Homo sapiens: one gene and its partner. The protein of the gene in region 2 interacts with the protein of the main gene of each other region in a pairwise test. Each region holds a gene or a part of one and is shown on either strand. Other genes may lie near its edges. The genes, in order: FGF13 and VMP1.

Region 1 (7,284 bases), on a different chromosome or scaffold from region 2:
GACTCTCTAGACTGTAGACTATCTGAGGACAGTGACCTTATCTGCATTATACAATGTTTACTTCCAGTTGCTACTTCAGTTACTGGCACATAATGGACGCTCAATAAATACATGTTGGAAGATTATTCTTTGAATGAATATAAAGAGTTTATTCGGTGCGTATTTGGGTATACAACAACAAATATTAAACAACTTTTTTAAACTTTTTGTGCACAGGACAGAAAACTGCCTGTACATGCTATGTCCACTTTTGGAACACAGATTTTTAACAATTATGAATGCACAAAATCTTACATATCATGCAACTCTATGCCAAGAACCCAACTTTCTTCCATGCAACAGATATGAAGATCTAAATGGAAACCTAGCTAAGTCTTAAACACTTTTCCAGTAGCAAGTATAATATATGTTGTTGAGGGAAAACCAGTCTTAACAATTCCTTGTACACAATATTCATGTGCCAAATACAATGACAGGAAGACTCATACATATACAGATAAGACATTTCTTATTTTAACAACACAAAAGACAACATCACAGTTCCACAGTTCCTGTCTTTACACAAGAAGCCACAACAATAGTTTAACATGATACACAAATGGAATTAAGAGAAATCTACACTTGAGGATAATTTTTTGAAGTTCTCTTTACTGACTGGGGTTGACAATACAACTCAATTTCTACGCACAAAGTACAGCACAATAACTTGACCAGAATACCACAAATCTAAAAAAAAAAAAAAAGAAAGAAAAACAATTGGTCAAACCACAAGAACACTGTTACCTTGAGCCTGAGAAGCCAATTCAGATTCAACCCTGAATTTGGTTGATTTGGATTAAGTGACGCAAAAAGTCAATAGAACCATTGAATTTCAGAAATCATAAAGTTGCACTATGCCAAAGAAAAGAGTACATGTGAATCAAGCGTAGATAGAAAACATCAAGCCAAGAAAACAACACAATTCACATAATTTTGTTTGCCCCGACAAAACATTTAAGCAGTTAATTTTGTTTTGTTTTGTTTTGTTTGTTTTTGAAGAACAATTGTGGTCTTTTACATTTTCTTGGTGGGAGAGCAAATTTTGATCAGCATTAGTGCTGTGAAATACTTTTGGATTATCATCCCCAAAGTATAGGTGAGATCATGAGAAAATTTGGCAGTCCTTCTCTCAGATTTAGTTCACTAAAATGCTTGGCATTCTTATGCACAAGCTCAATCTAAATAATGGGGCTTTAGTATGGATGATAAGAAGGTCTAATGGCAGATAGAATAGTGAACTCTGCCTGTTTGTTTGGTAAATGTCACTGACAAATTTGAACTTTTGGGTGAAGGACTGCTAGAAGAATTCAACAGCACCTGGAGGTAAGGTTCTGTTACAGAGCCCTTCTTTTGCCCTCACTGGCTACGTTGATTCATTGTGGCTCATGGATTTGCCTCCGTTCAGCACGCCAGAGACACTTCTGCTCTTGGTTGGGGTCCCGCTTCCAGATCGGGAGAACTCCGTGAGATCGTGCAGTGATGGCTCCTTGTACATGGCCACTGAAAAGCACACAAAGATGGTGTAAAAGGCCTTCAAATGGGCATACCAATTGTGAAAATTTCTAAGAATAGTTTGTAGGTGTTCTATTCCACACACCTAAATGATAAGTATGTGAGGTAATGCATATGTTAATTAGCTTGATTTAGCTATTCCACAATGTATACATATTTCAAAATACCTTGTTCATAATAAATATATACAATTTTTGTGTCAATTATAAATTAAATTCAGAAAAGGAAAAAGAGAAAAAAAATACATTAAAAAAATGGGCCTACCACACTGGTCCTCAACTTTTCTTTTGGTTACTAGGCTTCTGTGCCTTAAGCCAGACATGAAAAACACTGCTTTCAAGGACTCAGTAGAGAGTGGACAGGTTCAGATTAAGCAAAAATCTAGCCTTGGTGTAGTAGTGTGTAAAGAATTTTAATGCCTAACTTCAACCACATATGGTTATGTAAGAGAGGATTAATAAAAAATGCATTTAATAAACCTCTTAGAAGTTTAAATATGATCTATAGCATACTGTACAAGGCAAATATTAAAATTTAAAATATTTTAAAACACTGATTTCTATCATACTTTAAAATGAAACACTTCAAGAGTCTAAGTATTGGATAATTCTTGGTACAGTAAATGGTAAAATTTATTATTGTGCTATAAATAAACATAATAGCTTATAGTTATGGAACACATAACATTAGATACTACTCTAAGTTCTTTGCATGCATTATCCCATTTAGTCCCTATGAGAATCTTATAAGTACTCTTATCCATATTATACAGATGAACTTGAGGCATACACAGGTAAATAACCTGTTCAAGACCATCCAGTTAGCAAAAAGTGAAGTTGGGCCTTGAATTTAGGTAGTCTGGCTCCAAAAAATGTGCTGTAAAACACAGTGCTGTGCTTATTCGAATTGCACAGTGTCTGCCTCTACTCTAAACCCCTACTCTTACCTCAGGCTAGTAATCTCTTTGAAGTCTTCCTCTGCTTTGCCCGCATTTTCTGTCTCTTCTCTACCATATCTCACTATTTCTTACCTCCCTATCTTCCATAGCCTATTCTTGTCCCTCACCCTTTCTAATTTGCTATTAATCTGCTAATAATGATGGGAAAACTATAAGCAAAATTTGCTGAAATAATATGTTGGGCCCTTAGAGAGGACCCAAGGAGCTTTCTGGTAAGTGTTAAGTGTACACACATTTTTTTTTTCTTTTGTTTTTTGAAACGGAGTCTCACTCTGCCGCCCAGGCTGGAGTCCAGTGGCACGATCTCAGCTCGCTGTAAGCTCCGCCTCCCAGGTTCACGCCATTCTCCGGACCTCGTGATCCGCCCGCCTCGGCCTCCCCAAAGTGCTGGGATTACAGGCGTGAGCCACCGTGCCCGGCTGTGTATACACATTTTTAACACCTATGTTTCTGCCCAGGCAACATTTTAGCATAATTTGGGGATCTTGGCTGTCCTGAGTTAGCATGTAAGTTACTTCCACATAAGTAAAGTGTCACTATATGTACATGCACTATGGAAAAATTAAAATCAGGAGAGCAAATGTTTTTGAGTGTTACAAAATGTAAGTTTTTTAAATAAATGTCTTAATGTGGAACAACTGTTTCATTTTCAAAAGTATTATTAAGGACTGCTTTAAATTACTATTTCTAAATGTTCAACATCACTAATCATCAGGGAAATGCAAATTAAAACCACAATGAGATACCACCTTACTGCTGCAAGAATGGCTATAATTAAAATGTCAAAAAACAACAGATGTTGGCATGGATGTGGTGAAAGGGAACACTTTTACACTGCTGGCGAGAATGTAAATCAGTACAACCACTATGGAAAACAGTATGGAGAATCCTTAAAGAACTAAAAGTAGCATTGGATCCAGCAATCTCACTCCTGGCTAGCTACTGAAAGGAAAATAAGTCATCATATGAAAAACACAACTGCACAGGTATGTTTATAGCAGCGCAATTCACAATGGCCAAAATATGGAACCAACTTAAGTGCCCATCAATCAACGAGTGGATAAAAAAATGTGGTATATATATACACCATGGAATACTACTCAGCCATAAAAAGAAATGATATGATATCTTTTGCAGCAACTTGGATGGAGCTGGACGCCATTATTCGAAGTGAGGTAACTCAGGAATGGAAAGCCAAATATTGTATGTTCTCACTTAAGTGGGAGCTAAGCTATGAAGACATAAAGCATAAGCATGATATAATGGACTTTGGGAACTTGGTTGGGGGGAAGGTTGAGAGTGGGGTGAGGGATAAAACACTACATACTGGGTACAGTGTATACTGCTTGGGTGATGAGTGCACCAAAATTTCAGAAATCACCACTAAATAGCTTGTCTATGTAACCAAAAACCACCTGTACCCCCAAAACTATTGAAATTTAATAAATAAATAAGTATATTTAGTAGCATAATCCATAGTTCCCACAATATCAAATGTACCTTTCAGTGGTTTAGGCAGAAAATGAGCTGCAGGCTTGTTCTTCTTCACATGGTTGCCTTTCATGATCTCTCCTTCTTTGTTCAGACCCAGATACCACCCTCGGCCTGACTGCTGCTGACGGTATATCATTGATGAATATGTCACATAATAATTTTCAAACACTGATTCTTTGAATTTGCACTCAGGTGTGAAAAGTTCCTGCAACAAAAGTAAATAAACAAAAGTTCAGTGTTTATAGCTATGAATTTCCTGTAGAATCATGTGGTATTGCCTTTTAGGAGATTAAGACATACTTTGTAAAAGCTCGTGTGACTGGTGCTCTATTTTAATAGCATAAACTATCATCATTGGAAACCATCAGACTACATATAACATTTCACATGATGCTTTAGAAAAAGTCATAAGTGAAAGTGCTATTGATCAATGATTAGCTCTCTTTGTAATAGGTAATGGGAACATTAGAACAAGCCACATAAGTGAAATATATTGGACAACTACAAGAGCCAAGGATTGAAAAGACAAGCATAAAACTGACACATGGAGCTTTGTTCCCTTCAGGGTTCAATATGAGAAAATAAACATTCGGTCCTTGTACTTAATTTTCATGGATTCTTGAGTTATTATACACTATGGTTGTCAATTGCCTCAGGCTGAAATCTGTGTTACAATGCTTTCTGCCTATATTTCTAAAAGAATGCTACAAAGAAAGCCTACCTTTTACTTTTAGGTAAACCAAATTGATTTTTTTTGGATCATTGGACCTTGACTTGAGACAGAAAGAAAAATTCCCCCCTCACCCCATCCTTGCCTTACAGTAACATTTACATGCAAATCAATACAAAAGCAAGGAATTTACAGCAATTTTACTAGCAGACACGATAGAGCAGCCCAGTGGACTTTGAACTCAGGAATATGGTTTTCTGTCATGCATTTGGCCATTTTTACTTTAGACTGGATTTTTCAAATGAAGGGCTCCTGCCCTCAATAGACCATTTCAAGGAAACAAACAAACAAACAAAAAAACCAACAACAACAAAAAACCTTTTGTGTGTTTGAGTGTACACGTGTCTATGTGTACAATAAACAGCCATTAAAAATGATAATTTCTAAGCTAAATGAAATGAATAGTAGATTTGAATGTATAAGTAATCCATAGAGTAGCAAAGGGCCTACTTGGAGTGGAAGATTATTAGGAAAATGCTAAGTGAGCTACATGTCATAGAGGCACCAATTAAACTATCAGATTTTTGCTAATTTGCTGAGATGTTATCAGGAAAAACACTTGGTACTATCACCAAAAACATGTATACAAACAAATATTGCAAGCTTTCTGGGGCACTAGTCTTTTAAAAACAATGTCTCCATGGTTCTACCTTCCTTTATTTTTCATATTGGATACCATTTTAAGCAATACACACTAGCTGAGCAGCAACATCTGAAGCCCTCTCAGTCACTTCAGCAAAGAGGGATATATTCCTCAGGCAAGGCAGCTTTTCTCTGAAATTTAAGCACTCAAGCAATTTCCTTTCCTTTTTTCTGGGATTCTACAAACAGTGTTTCACACAGTAATCTGCCTAATCTCCCCCCATCTTCCCAATCTGGCTCCCAGAATGCACGAACTGAAGTATCTTTTGGGGTTATTTCAGCCTAGGGGCACACTCGATAGATGTTCAGAGGATTCACACAAATTCAACCTACTCAAGAAGCAATGTACTTCTAAGGCAACTGTCACATGTTAGGAACCAAAATGTTCTATTTATGGGCTGTGAAAACTCCTCTTTGTAGGATTTCTCAACATAGAGAAAGCCAAGAAAGTACCAAGAAATTTGACTAGAAGTCTCCACATTTCCTTTAGTGATGAGGACAAGTACATAGAACGTTGCTGAAATTCTTTGGGAATTAAATCACTGTACGGAAAAAAGTCATCATTGGAGAATGGATTTTCCTTTCATAAAGAATCAAACCATTTTGAAAATATATCTGGTGAAAAATGCATATGATCAAGGCAAATGATACCAAATAGCCACATAAACAATGTATGGCTGACTCCAGAATGGTGAGATGGGATCATTGCATATTCTAAGTCAGGTCCCAAAAATGGGCTGCATTTAATGTCTTGTGTGATAGCAGCATTCATACATTCATTTAATACACATTTTCTAAGGATCCATTATGTAGTTGATCGGTGCTAAATATTCATAGGTAAGTAATATGTGGCTTCAGACAGCTTATCATATATTTGTAGGTATCAAGCATGTACACAAATGTCATAGATACAATGTGTGCTACCATAAGGAAAGAAAGGGAGGCTTACAGGAGGTGCTGTATGAAAACAGAAAAAGCCAGACTTAATTCTGACTGAGGGACTAGGGAGGGATTCACAGAGAGGGTATCATTTTAGCCGAGCTTTTCAATACAGAAAACAGGGAAGAATAATATTTGAAGCACAGGGCCACACTTCCTCTACTTTTCCTGTGTTCCCTGTCTTAGTAACTGGAATCCACCATCCTGGCAGTTGCTCACTTAACACTTCAGAGGGCCTTTCATTTCATTCCTGTGCCCTCTAGTCCGTGATCCATGACCTTCACCTTCCATTCCCAATGCCACTGCTCTACTTTGCGCCTTATTACCTCTTCACTGGACTGCTGTCATAACATCCTAACTGGTTTCTTCTCTTCAGCTGGCAGGTTTGCTTTCCTAAAGCAAAGTTCCCTTCCTTGGGAAATTTTGATGATTTCACCTTGCCTATAGTAAAAACAACAAACAACTTGATGTAACATTTAAAAATTCTCCACAATTCAGTCACTACCATGCCTTCCAGCGTCATCTTCCAGTGTCATTCACCACAGAACCATGTGTGCCTTTGCGCTTTACTGATGCCATTCATTTCCTTTGCTTAGAATGTCATTCCTTTGTTTCTCTACCTACTGGCTTTCCTCTAACCCTCCAAGGCCTAGCTCAAATATGACTGTTTCCAGAATCACATATAATCTCTCCCAATCAGAACTGATTACACCTGTTATCTGTGCTCCCATAAACTCTATCTACATCTCTAGCATGGCCCTGTGACTCATACAACTGTATGATTAGCTCCAGATGGTAGGGAACTTGTCTTATTTTTTCCCCAATCTACCTTCCCCCAACAAAAATGACACGTTAGCACATGGCAGACCGCTTGATTATTGTTTATGTGATTTGAATTTCAGAGATTCAGATTTAAATATTGGAAATTCTAGGACTCAGAATTATCAACTAGTAAAAAGTCTGCAGGGAT
Region 2 (7,284 bases):
AAAACCGTGAATTCTCTATACAGAAATGCGGTATTTATAAACCATCATCAAAATTAAATCAACTAAAGTAAGTTTCAAATAGGAAAAAACTAATAAGATTAAAAACCCATTGAAGAGGCCTAATTTCTTTAATACACAATGGCAAAGATGACAAAAAAATTAATCTAACTGGAATAAAGGTCTTATTTCTAAACCTTTAATAAAAGCCTTGTTTCTAAACTTTTAAAGTCCTACTATTTACAGGACACAGGAAAAAGCAAATTATGAATAAGATAATTTTGAGGATAATTTTAGATATATTTAAAATAAATGCATTTAGAACTGTAAAAACTTCTCTGTGATTAGCAGTAAACTGTTTTAAAATACCATTCTAGAGTCATTTCAGTGATTGGCAGTAAACTGTTTTAAAATACCATTCTAGAGTCATTTCTGTGATTGGCAGTAAACTGCTTTAAAATACCATTCTAGAACCATTTCCTGTTAAAATACATTAATGTTTTGCTATTTTAACAAAAGAGGTTAACAAAGCATCCTATTTTCCCATCAGTAATGTTGTACATGTAGACTACAGGCAAATGAACCTGTCTTTTTATACAAATAAAACGTAATCATCAACCTTGGATGAGAGGCCTACCTATTTGGATGGGTCACAAAAGTATGTTAGAGAAAATAAGAAAACTTTGGCAGTGATTAACGGATTCATGCTGCTGTGACGGAAAACCTTCAGGAAAGTTACATTTAAATCTTTGATTACAGGCAGAGTGGCCTGTAATCCCAGCATTTTTGGAGGCCAAGGCAGCCAGATCACCTGAGGTCAGGAGTTTGAGACCAGCCTGGCCAACATGGCAAAACCCCATCTCTACAAAAATACAAAAAAAATTAGCTGGGTGTGGTGGCAGGTGCCTGTAATCCCAGCTACTTGGGAGGCTACAGCAGGAGAATTGCTTGAACCCAGGAGGCAGAGGTTGCAGTGAGCTCAGATCACACCACTGCGCTCCAACCTGGGTGACAGAGCGAGACTCTGTCTTTAAAAAAAAAAAAATCTTTGAAGGTAAAAGGAATCACACACACCACATATAAATCCTCAGCAGCCATAAAACATCACAAGAATATTTTTAGTGTATGCCTTTAAAAGTAAAACATTTGAGATACTAGTTATGAGATAATGTTGAGGGTAGAAATTCTATAAAACCCACATTCATCCCATTTGAAACTGAGATTAGAGAATTAGAGAATGTGCAAGACTAGAAACAGAATTGCTCGACCTCTCACCTGTTGATGCACTCCTTCAACATAATACGTAGCTATAAGCACAGCAAGCAGCAGTAAAAAAGACACCACAATGCTTTGACGATGCCATAATCTTAAAAACAAATAAAAAAAATAAATATCTCACAGTCTCACTTTCAGCATTCATCATTCTCAGAACAATTTCTTGCTGAAACAGTTAGGTTACCTAGCTCAGCTGGGCTGAGCTCTTTTCCTTACACATCATGGCCTCTTGGAGTAACAGAAGGGGGTCAAGGGAAGATACATAGGCAGAGAACCCAAGTTCTTATCATAACCCCCACTGTAGCCTTTTCCTTACCCAAAGCCTGATCTTATTAAACCTCAACTTATAATATGGAGAAGCATTATAGTATAATAGAAAGAGCACTGGCCTTCAAGTCAGAGGACCTGGGTCAGAGACCCTTCATGTTGCACTTTCAGCCAGACACTTAACCAACCTGATTCTGTTTCTTGTTTTTATAATCTTTATTTACTTATTTTTATTTTTTTTTGAGATGGAGTCTTACTCTGTTGCTGGAGTGCAGTGGTGCGACCTCAGCTCACTGCAAGCTCCACCTCCCGGGTTCAAGCTATTCTCCTGCCTCAGCCTCCCAAGTTGCTAGGACTATAGGTGTGTGCCACCATGCCCGGCTAATTTTTGTATTTTTAGTAGAGACGGGGTTTCACTATGTTGGCCGGGCTGGTCTTGAACTCCTGTCTTAGTGATCTGCCTGCCTCGGCCCCTCAAAGTGCTGGGATTACAGCCGTGAGCCACCATGCCCGGGCTTTGTTTCTTTTTTTCAGAGACAGGGTCTTGCTCTGTCACCCAGGCTGGAGTGCAGTGGCATGATCTTGGCTCACTGCAACTTCCACCTCCTGGGTTCAAGCTATTCTCCTGCCTCAGCCTCCCAAGTTGCTAGGACTACAGGCGCACGCCACCATGCCCGGCTAATTTTTGTATTTTTAGTAGAGATGGGGTTTCACCATGTTGGCCAGGGTGGTCTCGAATTCCTGACCTCAGGTGATCCACCCACCTCAGCCTCCCAAATGGCCTAAAATTCCACCTCCTGGGTTCAAGTGATTTTCCTGAGTAGCTGGGATTACAGGCATGCACTACCACGACCGGCTAATTTTTTTTTTTTTTGAGACAGAGTATCGTTCTGTTGCCCAGGCTGGAGTGCAGTGGCATGATCTCGGTTCACTGCAACCTCTGCCTCCCACGTTCAAGCGATTCTCCTGCCTCAGCCTCCTGAGTAGCTGGGACTACAGGCACATGCCACCACGCCCGGCTAATTTTTATATTTTTAGTAGAGACGGGGTTTCACCATGTTGGCCAGGTCTCGAATTCCTGACCTCAGATGATCCACCCACCTCCCAAAGTGCTGGGATTATAGGTGTGAGCCACCACGCCTGGCCTAAAATGTTTATAATAATGTACTTGTTTTACCTTCTTTATGGAGTTGCCCTAAGGATCAAAATCAGCTGAAAATGTTACAAAATACTTTATAAACTCTTAGTACAATAAAAATGTTAAGATAATAGTACAGAGAATAACTTGGAAGGGCATGCCAGAAGATAAGGCATGTAAAAGTTCAACTTGTTCTTTATGGTACTTGAAACAGGGCTTACAAGTACTAAATTTAAAGACAACACATTTCCATGGCAGAGTTCTTTTTCATTGGCTCAAACTATCAGTAAAACTGCCACATATGCTGAACCTTGCCCTGCTAAAGAATCAGTGTATCTAAATTACACAGACCTGATTTCTCCCAATGGTAAAATCAGGAGAGAAAATAAAAATCGTATTTTTCAGTGTTCTCCACTGCAGATTCAACATGAAAAAACAGTGGACAACTGTGATAATCCAGTAAGCAAACAGCAAATAGCAATGTCTTTCCCTAATCTATTTTTCTTCAACCTAAAGAAAGGAGAATAAATATGTTCCTATGGTAATATTCTAAAGGTAATTAATCCATTTTGATGGAGTAGAGGGCAGAAAGTAAGAGATTACTGAGGATTTTTTAAATGAGTAAATGAGGTGTATGTAAAAGGTAGTGGGAGAAGACTCTTTACTTTGAGGTCCATTCCTTCAAGATTACAAGGATTTCCAGAGAAAAATACTGCAAGGTAATGAGCGGCTGTCTCCACAGGACAATATTCTGCCTTTCTTCCCGCTCCCTCCTCTTCTTTTCATTCACTGAAGAGGGGTCTGAAAAACAATAGTGCAGAGATTAAAACAGAATTTCTAACATTTATGCTTATTCTCTTCAATCACTTTAGATGAAAAGAGTTTTATCTCCCAAATAACAACTAATAGCAAGTCCTAGAGTCTTGTGAAAAATGGCAACTAGTAGTACCTATAATCTCAGCACTTTGGGAGGCTGAGGAGGGCAGATCACTTGAGGTCAGTAGTTCAAGACCAGCCTGGCCAACATGGTGGAACTCCGTCTCTACTAATAATACAAAAATTAGCTGGGCATGGTGGTACACGCCTGTAATCCCAGCTACTCGGGAGGCTGAAGCACAAGAATCCCTTGAACCTGGGAGGCAGAGGTTGCAGTGAACTGAGATTGTGCCACTGAAGACCAGCCTGGATAACAGAATGAAAGAGACTCTGTCTCAAAAAAAAAAAAAAAAAAAAAAAGGCAACCAGTCCCAACTCAGCATAGAAAGAAGATGAATGACAGTAGTTCCCCCTTATCTACAGTTTCAGTAACACATGGTCAACTATGGTCTGAAAATAATAAATGGAAAATTCTGAAAATAAGCAATTCATAAGTTTTATTGTTTTAAATTTATTTTTATTTTTTTAAGAGACAGGGTCTCCATTCCGTTGCCCAAGCTGGAATGCAGTGGCATAATCACAGCTCACTTTAAACTCCAACTCTTGGGGTCAAGTGATCCTCCCACCTCAGCCTCCCAAGCAGCTAGGACTACAGGTGTGTACCACCGCACCCAACTAATATTTTTGGTTTTTGTGGAGACACAGTCTCACTACGTTGCCTGGGCTCATCTGAAACTCCTGACCTCAAGTGATCAGCTCGCCTTGGCCTCCCAAAGTGCTGGAATTACAGGTGTGAGCTACTGCAGCCAAGCCCCTAAGTTTTATATTGTATGCTGTTCTGAGTAGTATAATAAAATCTTGCCAGTCCTGCTCCATCCAGCCTAAGACCTGATTCATCCCTTTGTTTAGTACATCCGCGTTGTATATGTTACCCCATTACTATATACAGAACAACACAGTGTTTTTTCCTATATCCACTAGGGGTCATGGAATGTATCCCTCATGGATAAGGGGGCTACTATATTATAGTTGCCATTTCTTAATCAGTGTTACCTAGAGAACAACTGAGGCAAAACCAACTCCCTGCCTTGATAAACATCAGAATCTTTTGTAGAGGATGTCCTAAAGAAATGGTACTGAAAATTCCAGCAGTTGAATTTGGGATAGAGCTATAGATTTTGGGAAAATTACTGAAATAAGTCTAAATTGGTCCACCTTCTATGAAGGGCATTCTATCAACCTAGGATCATATTACAGAACAAAGTGGTTTAGATCGCAAAAATGGTGAGGCAAACTAGTTGGTTCCAATCCTGGCTCTGCCTTCTATTAGTCACGTGATCTTGGGCAAGTTAGTTAATACTTTTGTGACTCAGTTTTCTCTTCTGTAAAATGGGGATCACAATAGTACATACTTTTCAGGGTCATTTTAAGGATTAAATGAGCTCATATATGTAAAGTTCTCAGAAGAGTTTAACACTTAGTAAGTGCCCAATTAAGTTTAGCTATTAATTGTCACCATCTATTGAAATTACAAAATGCTTTTGTTTTTGTTTTTTTTGAGACAGGGTCTCATTCTGTTGCCCAGGCTGGGGTGCAGTGGTAGCATGATTTTGGCTCACTGCAACCTCCACCTCCCTGGTTAAAGCGGTTCTCCTGCCTGAGCTTCCCGAGTAGCTGGGATCACAGGCATCTGCCACCACGCCCGGCTAGTTTTTTTTTGTATTTTTAGTAGAGATGAGGTTTCATCATGTTGGCCAGGCTGGTTTCAAACTCCTGACCTCAAGTGATCCACGCACCTCCGCCTCCCAAAGTGCTGGGATTACAGATGTGAGCCACCACGCCCAGCACAAAATGCATATACACTGTAAACCGGTAATTCCATTTCTAGGAATGATTAGGTATAAGGTGAAATGACTTGCACAACTTTATTGACCACAGCATTATTTGTACTAGCAAAAAATAATCAATAACTTATATATTACCAATAGAGGACAGAAGAGTGATTAAAGTACAGCACACTCGTACAATGGAAAGAAAAACTAAGCAGCCATAATAAAGAATAAATTTTTTTTTTTGGGGGACAGGGTCTTGCTCTGTCACCCAGGCTGGAGTGCAGTGGTGTGATCGCAGCTCACTGCAGCCTTGTGGGCTAAATCGATACTCTCACCTCAGTCTTTCCAGTAGCTAGCTAGAACTTGAGTAGCTAGCTAGAACTACAGGCGCATACGATCACATCCAGCAAATTTTTAAAATCTTTTGCAGAGATGAGGTTTCCCTGTGTTGTCCTGGCTGGTCTCAAACTCCTGGGCTCAAGAGATCCTTCCGCCTTGGCCTCCCAAAGTGTTGGGATTACAGGCGTGAATCACCACGCCCAGCCTAAGAATCAGTTTTTCATGTACAGTTATAGCATAATCTCTAAAATATTAAAAAACACCTGGTACAGAAGAGTAAGTTTGACATGCTAATGTTAATTTTAAATTCCAATGGGGTGAGCAGAAGAGGAAGAATATACAAATGTATGTGCTCTCTAAAAGGAAAGAAAAAAATAGCACACAAAAGCTCCTAATGGGAAGACACTATGATGTATGCAATGCCCATCTCTGAATCCTGAAACTCTTGGTGAAATTGCCAAGTTTACTGACAACCAAAGTAACCCAAAAGTCAGATCAGTGCTGCAAAATGTCCTCTGCAAGGCAATATGGTGATTAACAAACAAATGAGGCCGGGCGCGGTGGCTCATGCCTGTAATCCCAGCACTTTGGGAGGCCAAGGTGGGTGGATCACCCGAGGTCAGGAGTTCAAGACCACCCTGGCCAACATGGTGAAATCCCATCTCTACTAAAAATACAAAAATTGGCTGGGCGTGGTGGCGCATGCCTTTAATTCCAGCTACTCGGGAGGCTGAGGCAGAATTGCTTGAACCTGGGAGGCGGAGGTTGCAGTGAGCCAAGATCGCACCATTGCACTCCAGCCTGGTGACAGAGTGAGATTCCGTCTCAAAAAGCAAACAAACAAACAAACAAATGAAAACTACTATTTCAGATTCCTTGCACTTCCTCTAAAAGTAGAGGATTGCTGTGAAAATATTACCACACTAGAGTATTATTTGCCATGTGTTTGAGATGTCAAACAATTCAAAAGCTAAAAAAAAAGTATGATTACAACAAAAGTAAAACTTTTTTTTCATTTTCCTTTAAATGCATGAAGGAAAGTTTCTACTTAAATCATCCATATTAATAAAAGTCATCATTTTCAGGGTAACTGTATAAACAGGAGTCAAATACACTGAAATTTACCACAAATTCCAATTTGGTTAAAATATGAGTTTATTCATCTCAAACGATAATTTTAAAATAAATTTTTAAATAATATTCACATTCTAACTTTTTTGATAACTGTATATTTAAGAACAGTGTAGTAAGTTTATAATCTACTTCTAGAATTACAAAATAGCACAATAAAATTGAGCACTGAGCAAAGCCAAATAAACACTGACCATACTATAAGATTAACAAGTAATAATCTTGTACTTGGAACACTGTTTATGTGATTGTGGCCAGGCTCCTTCTGCCATCACTGTGAAATATCACCTTACAGGCCCTGACTGACCCATAATTTAATTTACTAAGAAGATAATATAAGATTAAAAATAAAAGAAGTAATATATCTCTATTTTATTCCAATGAAAAGTATATCATTTAAACCCATAGCACTCCTCCCTGCAAACCATC

What was found.
Region 1: the proteins of VMP1 (region 2) and FGF13 interact in a two-hybrid assay, tested with the Homo sapiens proteins (one study listed by BioGRID).

The regions. Positions count from the first base shown.
Region 1 is NC_000023.11:138,631,448-138,638,731, forward strand, and holds part of FGF13 (fibroblast growth factor 13), read right to left. Parts: intron 4,209-7,284; coding exon 4,010-4,208; intron 1,540-4,009; coding exon 1,403-1,539; 3' UTR 1-1,402. UniProt on the Homo sapiens protein: Microtubule-binding protein which directly binds tubulin and is involved in both polymerization and stabilization of microtubules.
Region 2 is NC_000017.11:59,731,532-59,738,815, reverse strand, and holds part of VMP1 (vacuole membrane protein 1), read right to left. Parts: intron 3,479-7,284; coding exon 3,343-3,478; intron 1,364-3,342; coding exon 1,273-1,363; intron 1-1,272. UniProt on the Homo sapiens protein: Phospholipid scramblase involved in lipid homeostasis and membrane dynamics processes. Has phospholipid scramblase activity toward cholesterol and phosphatidylserine, as well as phosphatidylethanolamine and phosphatidylcholine.